2 linked regions of the Homo sapiens genome follow. The protein of the gene in region 2 interacts with the protein of the main gene of each other region in a biochemical or structural test. Each region holds a gene or a part of one and is shown on either strand. Other genes may lie near its edges.

Evidence for each region.
Region 1: the proteins of HCK (region 2) and RASA3 form a complex in vitro, tested with the Homo sapiens proteins (one study listed by BioGRID).

The regions. Positions count from the first base shown.
Region 1 is NC_000013.11:114,013,553-114,018,229, forward strand, and holds part of RASA3 (ras GTPase-activating protein 3), read right to left. Parts: coding exon 4,552-4,677; intron 3,800-4,551; coding exon 3,685-3,799; intron 2,720-3,684; coding exon 2,645-2,719; intron 1,781-2,644; coding exon 1,657-1,780; intron 1-1,656.
Region 2 is NC_000020.11:32,082,836-32,087,512, reverse strand, and holds part of HCK (tyrosine-protein kinase HCK), read right to left. Parts: intron 3,620-4,677; coding exon 3,470-3,619; intron 3,123-3,469; coding exon 2,970-3,122; intron 886-2,969; coding exon 706-885; intron 1-705. UniProt on the Homo sapiens protein: Non-receptor tyrosine-protein kinase found in hematopoietic cells that transmits signals from cell surface receptors and plays an important role in the regulation of innate immune responses, including neutrophil, monocyte, macrophage and mast cell functions, phagocytosis, cell survival and proliferation, cell adhesion and migration.

The DNA.
Region 1 (4,677 bases), on a different chromosome or scaffold from region 2:
CCTCTGTCTCTCTCCCTATCTCTGTCTCTCTCTCTCTCTCTCCGTCTCTGGCTCTCTCCCCCCCTCCATCTGTCTCTCTCTCTCTCCATCTCTTTGTCTCTCTCCCTCTTTGTCCCTCTCCCTGTCTCTCTCCCTATCTCTGTCTCTCTCTCTCTCTCCCCCTCTCTCTCTCCGTCCGTCTGTCTCTGGCTCTCTCTCTCTCTCTCCATCTCTCTGTCTCTCTCCCTCTCTGTCTCTCTCCCTAACTCCATCTCTCTCTCCCCGTCTCTTTCTCTCCGTCTGTCTCTCTCTCCATCTCTCTGTCTCTCTCCCTGTCTCTCTCCCTATCTCTGTCTCTCTCTTTTTCTCTCTTTCTCTGTCTCTCTCTCTCCGTCTCTCTCTCCCTGTCTCTATCTCTCTGTCTCTCTCTCTCTCTCTCCGTCTCGATCTCTCTCTCCATCTCTCTCCGTCTGTCTCTGTCTCTCTCCATCTCTCTCTCTCCGTCTCTATCTCTCTCTCCGTCTGTCTCTGCCTCTCTCTCCGTCTGTCTCTGCCTCTCTCTCCGTCTCTCCCTGTCTCTCTCTCTCTCTCCTTGTCTCTCTCTGTCTCTCTCCTTCTGTCTCTGCCTCTCTCTCCATCTCTCCCTGTTTCTCTCCATCTCTCATCACCACCACACAGCGCAGCCCCTTTGGTGTCTCATTCCACAGTGGTCTGTGCTCATCTGGGTGAGAGGATGTGTTTTATCTCTTCACTTCCACCTTGTTCAAAGTGGGTCTGGGGCTGGGATGTGCTTGGGAACTGCCTCCCCCAGAACCCTGGGCCCCTCGGCCGGCGCTGTCTGACTGTCTGATGTCCTGAGAATCAGGGGTGGGGACAGCGTTTGTCTCCTGGGGACACAGAAGCGTGGACGGCTCTGCAGGACCATGGCCACCCCGGGGTGTCTGCAGCTGTCCCGAGGCCACAGGACACGCAAGGAAGAGAGGAGCCGGCAGCAAGGCCCTCGCTGAGCCTCTCAGCGCCCCATACATAGCCTGAGTCCTGGCGGGGTCTTGAGTATCGCAGGTGATGGGTGGGTGCAGGCACCCAGCTCCTCCCTGAGGGTCGGCAAGGTTGAGAAGTGGGGTTTGGGTGCTGGATGCCCAGGTCCCTAGGGGATCTCCGGCTTGGGGGTTTGAAGAAAGGGCAGCTCCCCCAGGGGTCCTGTCTCTTCGAAGACACGGGCAGGCAGAGCCCCCAACACCACTCTGGGCCCTGCCAGGGTCGGCCACAAAAAGAAACCACTGGGAAAACCCAGGGGTCCACATCAGGAAAATTCACATTCCACCCCGACAAAGCCTGGCCACCCTTCCCGGCCCCCCCAGAGACCACTGTGGTCGTGAACTCCAGGGCTGGGCCCCTCTAGAGACCACTGCGGTGGTGATCTCCAGGGCTGGGGTCCCCTGGAGACTACTGTGGAGGTGAACTCCAGGGCTGGGGTCCCCCAGAGACCACTGCGGTTGTGAACTAGGGAACACTGGCCCGGGCACAAACCCCGGAAAAATCCAGCATCGGAACTGGGGTTCACGACCCCGCAGTTCTAGTCTAGCCAGGGCTGCGGGGGGTTCTGCCTGGGTGGGAGTCACCCTGCACAGCGCTATGGCAGTTTCTCAGCAACATGAGGGTGTTCAGGGCACTCACCCTGGAAGCGCTTGGCCGCCGCCTCCCGGAGGGAGAAGAAGATGTCACACATGACGGTCGGGCAGCTCACCCCAGACTCAGTGATGGCGTGGAAGACGCGGTCCACATACTGCCGTAGGTTCTCCTGCAACGGGACACGGCACTGGGACCCACTCCCGAGGCTGCCCACAGGTGCGTGTAGCACCAGGGCACGCCCAGGGAGGGGCGCGTGGGGAGGGGCTGAGGGCGGGCGCAGGGCAGCTGCGGCAGTGAGACACGTGTGAACAGCCACTCCCTGGAAATCTGTGCTGGGAGCTGTGGCAATTCACGCGTGAAAATCACTACACAGGCACCACGTCGGCTCCCCGGCTCGGCCCCGACCTCGTTTACTGAGTGGGGAATGGACGTTCACTAGAATGTGCCTGCCCAAGGCAAAGAGCTCTGTCATTTACATACAGAAATGACGAAACAGCACGCTCTGCAAGAAGTATCATGTGAAGTGACTAAAATGTTGGAGCAAGTTCAACATCAGGGAGTTTTGCTGTTTTAAAACGCAGTACACAGCTCTGGGGACAGCCTGGGGAGGCAGGGAGGCCATCCTGTCCTAGGAAAAGGGAGGGGCAGGAGCCATTGCCCAAGGGAAGGAGGAGCCGGGGCGGAGGCAGAGCTGGTCAGGATTGTCCAGGGGAGGCAGAGCAGGGTGTGCAGGGCAGACCCTCCGGGGGGGCAGAGCTGGGGCATGCAGACCGGATCACTCCAGGGGAGGAAGAGCTGGCCGGGACCCCCCAGGGGACGCAGAGCCCGGCACACAGGCCAGGCCAAAGGTGGTGGCTGAGGCCTCCCAGTAGTGCAGCCAGCGTACTGCAGCCGGGTGAGGCGGGTATCCCCACGCCTGGTCCTGCTCCCACCCCAACCGGGGTCACGGGGTGAGTCAGAGCTTCCAGGCAGCCATCGGCTGAAAAACCCCAAGCAGGTGACTGGCTTTGGTTGGTTCATGAACAAAACCTACCATGTTGTTTTCAAGGTTTTCTCCGTCTTTCAACTTCACAGGGTCGATTTCACAGGGTTTGTGGCTCTGGCATATCTGGGGAGAGGTTTAAGACAGGGCTCTGTGAGTGGGTTCTGGGGGCACAGGCAGGGAGGGTGGAAGGGGTCTCAGGCCTGGCTGAGATGTAGACCCTGAGCCTCATCCAGAAAATGCCACGACAGCTCCCCGAACCCGGCCACTGGCACGGAGGGGCACGGTGAGGCCGGACTGCAGGGCCACCGTGGGGTGGTGTCGTCCCGAGCCTCAGCTGCAAGGGGGCAACCCTGGGCCTGTGTCACTGGCTGCGGAGGGACAAGTGAGAGGTCAGGCGCAAACACTAGGCACGGGGCCCAGTCCATGGCCGCGATCAGACGAGCCGGGCTCTCTCAGGGAGCGATGTGCGCCCGCGATCAGACGAATCGGGCTTTCTCAGGAGTGATGTGCACCAGCCCACACGGACTAGGCCTCACAGGGCTTTAATAATATTTTTACTTCAAAATGCTGCCATGATTTTGCCCACAGAGCAAACCAGAATGCTATGTTCAATTTTCTCACATTTGCAAAGAACCTGTTTACAAACCCGCTCATAAACGGGGGGCACAGCCTGGCGGGCATCAGAGGGTCAGGTGAGGAGTGGGTGTGCGGGCATCAGAGGGTCGGGTGAGGACTGGGCGTGCAGCTCAAACATGCCACGCAGCCAGGGCCCAAACACAGGGGACTGCAGGACATGTGGAGAAAGAAGGTCTCCCTGGGAAGAGCCAGGCTTTTCTTGCATGTTCTCCTTTGTGGAGTGGTGGATTTTCTTATGTATAGTTTTAATTTGGGAGAATTTGGAAGGTTCTGGAGTACACAGGGAACATCCTCTTGATAAAAGTGAATGAATCAGCATCCCCGTGGCGAGGCCAGAGGGGCCGACATTCAAGCCCAGCTCGTGGTCTGGCTGGATCCCAGTGCAGTGCCCTCTGTTGGGGGAAATCCTCCCCACGCCTCGTGAGGCTGAGGACTCTCGGCCCCGTGCTCACCTCCTCGATGGCGGGCTTCAGGGTGACATGCAGGTAATGCATCCCCGCCAGCTTCATGGTCTCGTCGATGCACTTGGACGCCAGTGAGTTTCCTCGGAAGATGGTGTTGGGGTCCCTGGGAAATGGCGATGGGGACAGCGTTTGTCTCCTGGGGACGCGGAAGTGCAGACGGAGCAGAGCCTGGCCCCGAGCACCTGCCTGTGGGCTGTGAGGTCAGTGCACGCCCATCAGTCGGCTTCCTGACATTTTACAAGGAGCACAACCAGGCCAGGTGCTTGGAGGCCCTGGCCATGGAACCGTCCTGTGTCAACACTGCCAGAGGGAACCGTTCGGCTACCTGCGTGGCCACCAGCTCAGGAGGAGCCTGGCTGGCCTTCGCCCTCCCGCCCTCTCCCCTCTGCGGCCTCTGCCTGTGCAGAGAGTTGGGCACCAGACCCTGGCAGCATCCAAGGGCCAGCAGAGAAGCAAACCCTCCTGTCAGCTACAGTGGCTGCAGGTGCAGCCAGATGTTTCTAGAACAGGGCGTCCGGAAACAGCACTAGGCAGGTCCTGAGGGAAGCTGTGCTCCATTTTTGTGGGCTCCCAAAGTGCCCCAGGGAGGGGACCTGAGCTGTCCTCGAGCCCCAGGAGCCGTTTCCCCTCCCCACTCACTCACTCTACCCGGGATTTCAAAGGCAAATGGGACTTTCAAAAAAAAAAAAAAGAATCATTAACTGGGTCTGTGAAAGAAAACCTGAATCAACATGGTTTCTGGGGACCCTTGAATTCCCTCAAGCCCTGCCCCAGGACACGTGGTTCTCGGCGACGACCTTGCCATCCCTGTAGCGGGTCCAGGCCGCTCTCCCCCGGGGCAGGGTGGGCACTCACTGGGTCCGCTTCACCTCCGCGCTGGCGATGGCACTGATGAATGGCACCACCCTGCCATAGTGTAGGAAGAGCCGCACCAGCGGGACGGCCGCCTCCTGCTTCTCCCGGCAAACCTCGCCCAGGATG
Region 2 (4,677 bases):
CTGGGTAGGCAGAGGGCAACCCTGTCTCTAAAAATAAATATGTAAATAAATAAATAAAATTAGCTGAGTGTGGTGGCATGGGCCTGTGGTCCCAGCCACTCGGGGGGCTGGGGTGGGAGGATCACTTGAGCCCAGGAGTTATGATTGCACCTCTGCACTCCAGCCTGAGTAACAGAGCAAGTTCCTGTCCCTAAAAAACAAACAAACAAAAAATGGCAGGGGTTGAAAATGGTTGTGAAACAGTGGCCTAAAAAAATTCCCCAAGAAATCCTGAGTTGTGGCAGGGCGGGGGTGGGGGCAGAACTGCTGCTTTGCCAGCTCCCTCTCCCAGGGCTTTGGCAAGTACAGGGAAGGTGGCTGATGCGGGAGAGTGGCACCCCCACCACCCATGCCACACCCTGGCCTCTAAGGCTCACTGTGAACCATAAGCCCCTTCTCCCATTGCCCAGGAGTATTCTGGCCCCATTCCCTTCTCCTGGTAGCCCCTTGTTCTCCCTTCCCCTTGGTGACCCCTTAACATGATTTCACCCCACTAACCAGGAGGGCTGGATTGTTCCACATTAGATTCTCAATGAGTACTTGTTGGAAGAGCTCCTGGCCAGATTGGGGCCATCTCAAGGGCAAGAACCATGTCCAAGCCACCCTTGGGCCCGCAATTGACCAGTATAGGCCACAGCCTGCACCCCCAGCCCCAGCACGCAGCACCTTTGGCCATGAACTCCGTGATGATGTAGATGGGCTCCTTGGTGACCACCGCATGAAGTTTGACCAGCTTGTCATGCTGCAGAGTTTTCATCACGTTGGCCTCTGCCAGGAAGGCCTCCACCGACATGCTCCCTGGCTTCATCGTCTTCACTGCCACCTTGGTGTGCTTGTTGTAGGTGGCTGGAGGGGGATAGAGAGCAGGGAAGGTGGTCAGAGCCCACTGGTCTCCCGTACCACCCTAGAAGGCCCAGCTGCAGACCCGCCTCCTCCAGAAAGTCTTTCCTGCTCATCTCAACTCTCAGAGAGGGAAGCGAAATCATGGGCTTAGGCCTCAGACAACTGTGGGTTGAAAGGCGGGTTCACCACTTCCCAGCTGTGCACACTAGGGCAAGTGGCTTAACGTCTCTGAGCCGTGGCTTCCTCAGCTTCCTCATCTGTAAAGTGGAAATGGTAAGCTTTGCCTTTGAAGTGCTGTTGCAAGGATTTAAAAATAGCTCTAAGTGGCTCACGCCTGTAATCTCAGCACTTTGGGGGGCCGAGGTGGGCGGATCACAAGGTCAGGAGATCGAGACCATCCTGGCTAACACGGTGAAACCCCGTCTCTACTAAAAATACAAAAAATTAGCCAGGCGCAGTTGTGGGCGCCTGTAGTCCCAGCTACTGGGGAGGCTGAGGCAGGAGAATGGTGTGAACCCAGGAGACGGAGCTTGCAGTGAGCCAAGATTGAGCCACTGCACTCCAGCCTGGGTGACAGAGCGAGACTCTGTCTCAAACAAACAAACAAACAAAAAACCCAAACAAATAAAAATAGCTTTAAAACACTACTCAGGTTATGTCACACACATACACCGCCCACTTTAATCTTAACACTGCTCTTAAATAAATGCCAGACTTACTATGACCCCCAGGCCCTACATGACCCAGCCTCGTCCACCCCTCTAGCCTCATCAGCCACTAAACTCCCCTTGCCTTTTATGTGCCAGTCACCCTGCAGGTCACTCAGTCCCTCAAGCACCCAACTCACCTCCCACCACAGGGATTTGGCACATGCTGTTCCCTCCCCTCACCCCACCCTGCTTCATTTGGTGGGTCTTGTCAATTTTATAATTGCTTGGGTTTCCATTTTGCCTTGGCTTCCAGGAAGCTCCAATCCAGAACCGTGGGCTTCCTGTAGTAGGAGTCTAGCGTCTTATATGATATTTTTGGCTTTCAAATCTCACCACTCAGATCTGTCTTACCTTCCTCTCCATATTTTCTTTTTTGTCAAATTCTTTTTAATTTTATTATTATTTTTTAGACAGAGTCTCACTCTGTCTCCCAGGCTGGAGTGCAGTGGTGCGATCTCGGTTCCCTGCAACTTCCACCTCCTGGGTTCAAACGATTCTCCTGCCTTAGCCTCCCGAGTAGGTGGGATTACAGGCTCCCACCACCACGCCTGGCTAATTGTTGTATTTTTTCGTAGAGACGGGATTTCACTATACTATCCAGGTTTTTCTCGAACTGCTGACCTTGATTGATCCACTTGCCTCGGCCTCCCAAAGTGCTGGGATTACAGGCGTGAGCCACTGTGCCCGGCCTTGCATGCAGCAGAATCGCAATAAATACAGTCGAAATACATGGATTTTAAACTTATTTTATCTGGCTGAGTTGTTTGCATCCCTGTAAGTTGTCTTCGCTCCCATTTGGAACGCTCCCATTTGGAACGTATTAACACAGCAGGCTGCCCCACACTGGGCTGGCACTGCATCTACCCCACAGCCCTGCAAAGCAGGCAGTGTTGTTCTTAAGTTCTTGGGGAAAATCAGCAGGTGTGAGATGTGCCTTTCTGATTTTCCCACAAGACCCTAACAGTGCTGGGCACACAGCAGGTGCTCAGAATAACCTGTTCATCAGTTGCCTGGAAATCTCCAAGCTGCATTTCCCCATTCTTAATTTTCATCATCTGAAAAGGTCTCTGGTTATCTCAATCCCAAACTGTTAGGCAGTCCCCACTCCGTATGAGGGAGGGATTCCTCATCCATGACACCTGCTTCCCAGAAGGAAGTTTTTGACCACTACAGGACTGGTCTCAAAGGCAAATCAGTGTTTGCACAGCAAGACAATTTGGTTTGCTATCAGGGAACTGCTTCTTTATGGCTATTATTTAAATCTCCCCCTCTGCCTTGGGTAGCATTCCCGCTTTGCCATAAGGTGTTCCTGGAAGCAAGTGGCCTCCCTCTCCCCTCCACCCTCTGGCCCTGTGGGCTGTGGCCCTGGGTCCTTACCCATCCAGACTTCCCCAAACTGCCCAGCTCCAAGTTTCTTCTCCAGCTTGAGGGATTCCCGAGGGATCTCCCAGGCATCTTTCTCCCAAGGCTTCTGGGGCTTGGAAGACATGCAGGGCACCGACAGTTTCTGGCAGAGCCCGTCGTTCCCCTCTGGAACAGAGTCCCTGGTCAATTGAGAGCAACAAGCACCGAGCCAGCCAGAGGTTGCTCCTTGGAGGCCGCCCTACCTGGTCCACTGGATCTCTCCAGTGTTCCACCTGGTTGCCACCATCAGAGACATTCCCAAGCAAGCAGAGTGTGACGGGGTGCCACCTCTACATCTTGGCCACCTCACCCTCCTGCTCAACAGTCCTAAGCCTTCAGAAGCATCCAAAGCAACTATCTGTCTAGGGGATGGCCAAGAAGGACACAGCAGGTCTCAGGGGCCACAGTGCATCCGTGACTAGGAGTCTGTGGGCCCATCGTGGTGGGGATGTCACCCCTGGGGTGGGACTCACTCTTGTAGTGGTCCACCAGCTCCTGCAGAGTGCTGAAGGTGCTTCGGGGGGATATGTAGAAGCCCCCGTTGTCCAGGGTCCGGATCTTGTAATGTTTCACGGTATCTCCCTGCCGAGGGTCGTAGTCTCGCACGGACAAAGAGTAGCTTCCTGAATTGACCAAAGAGAAACCCCTCAGAATGGCATCTTGGAGGCCTGCCACCTTGCATTAGCACTCTGACACCCTGTAAGGCTACCGCTGGCACCGTCCTGACACCTGGGCAGAAGTGCCCGAGGGTCTGAGTGGGCTGTGGGAGCCAGGCATCCTGGGCTCTCATCCAGGCTCTACCACATCCACCCGTGAGACCTTGGCCATGTGACTATGTCACCTCTCTATGCCTCAGTTTTCTCATCTGTAAAATGGGAATAGTTCTCACGCCTCCCTACCTGATCCTATTGCCTGACGGCTAAAAGAAGTAATGCCTGTAAACTACTTGGAAGCTGAACACTCTGCAAATGTTGGCTATCATCATCATCATCTTCATTATTTCTGATCTATTGTTCCATCTTTCTATCATCTACCCTACAAAAAGCCAAGAGACCATAGTATACTTTTTACTTTTTCATAAAAACTCAGGCTATGACTTTTCTGGAAAAAAACCCAGAAATCCAGTCCAGTTATTGAAATGTGAACATGCTGTGGTAGGCTGAATAGTGGTCCCTCAAGATAGTCATGCCCTAAACCCTGGAACCTGGGAATATGTTACCTTACATGGTAAAAGGTACTTTAGAGATGTGATTAAGTTAAGGATCTGGAGACGGGGAGATTATTCCAGATGATCCAGGTAGCCCCAGTGTAATCCCTTGAGTTCTTGTTAGAAGGAGGTAGGAAGGTCAAAGTGGAAGAGGTGAAGATGGAAACAAGAGCTTGGACAGATGTCAGGAAGGGACTATGAGCCAAGGAATGCTGTAGCCTCTGGAAACTAAAAAAGGCAAGAAAATGAATTCTCCCCTGAAGCCTCCAGAAGGAACCAGCCCTGCTGACATCTTGAGCCCAGTGAGGTCAGACTACTGATCCCCAGAACTGTTAGAGAATAGACGGGTGTTGTTTTAAGCCACTAAGTTTGTATTAATTTGTTACAGCAGCAATGGGAACCTAACATACATATTAGGCTGGTGCAAAAGTAATTGCAGTTTTTGCCTTCAAAAGTAGTGGAAAAAACTGAAAT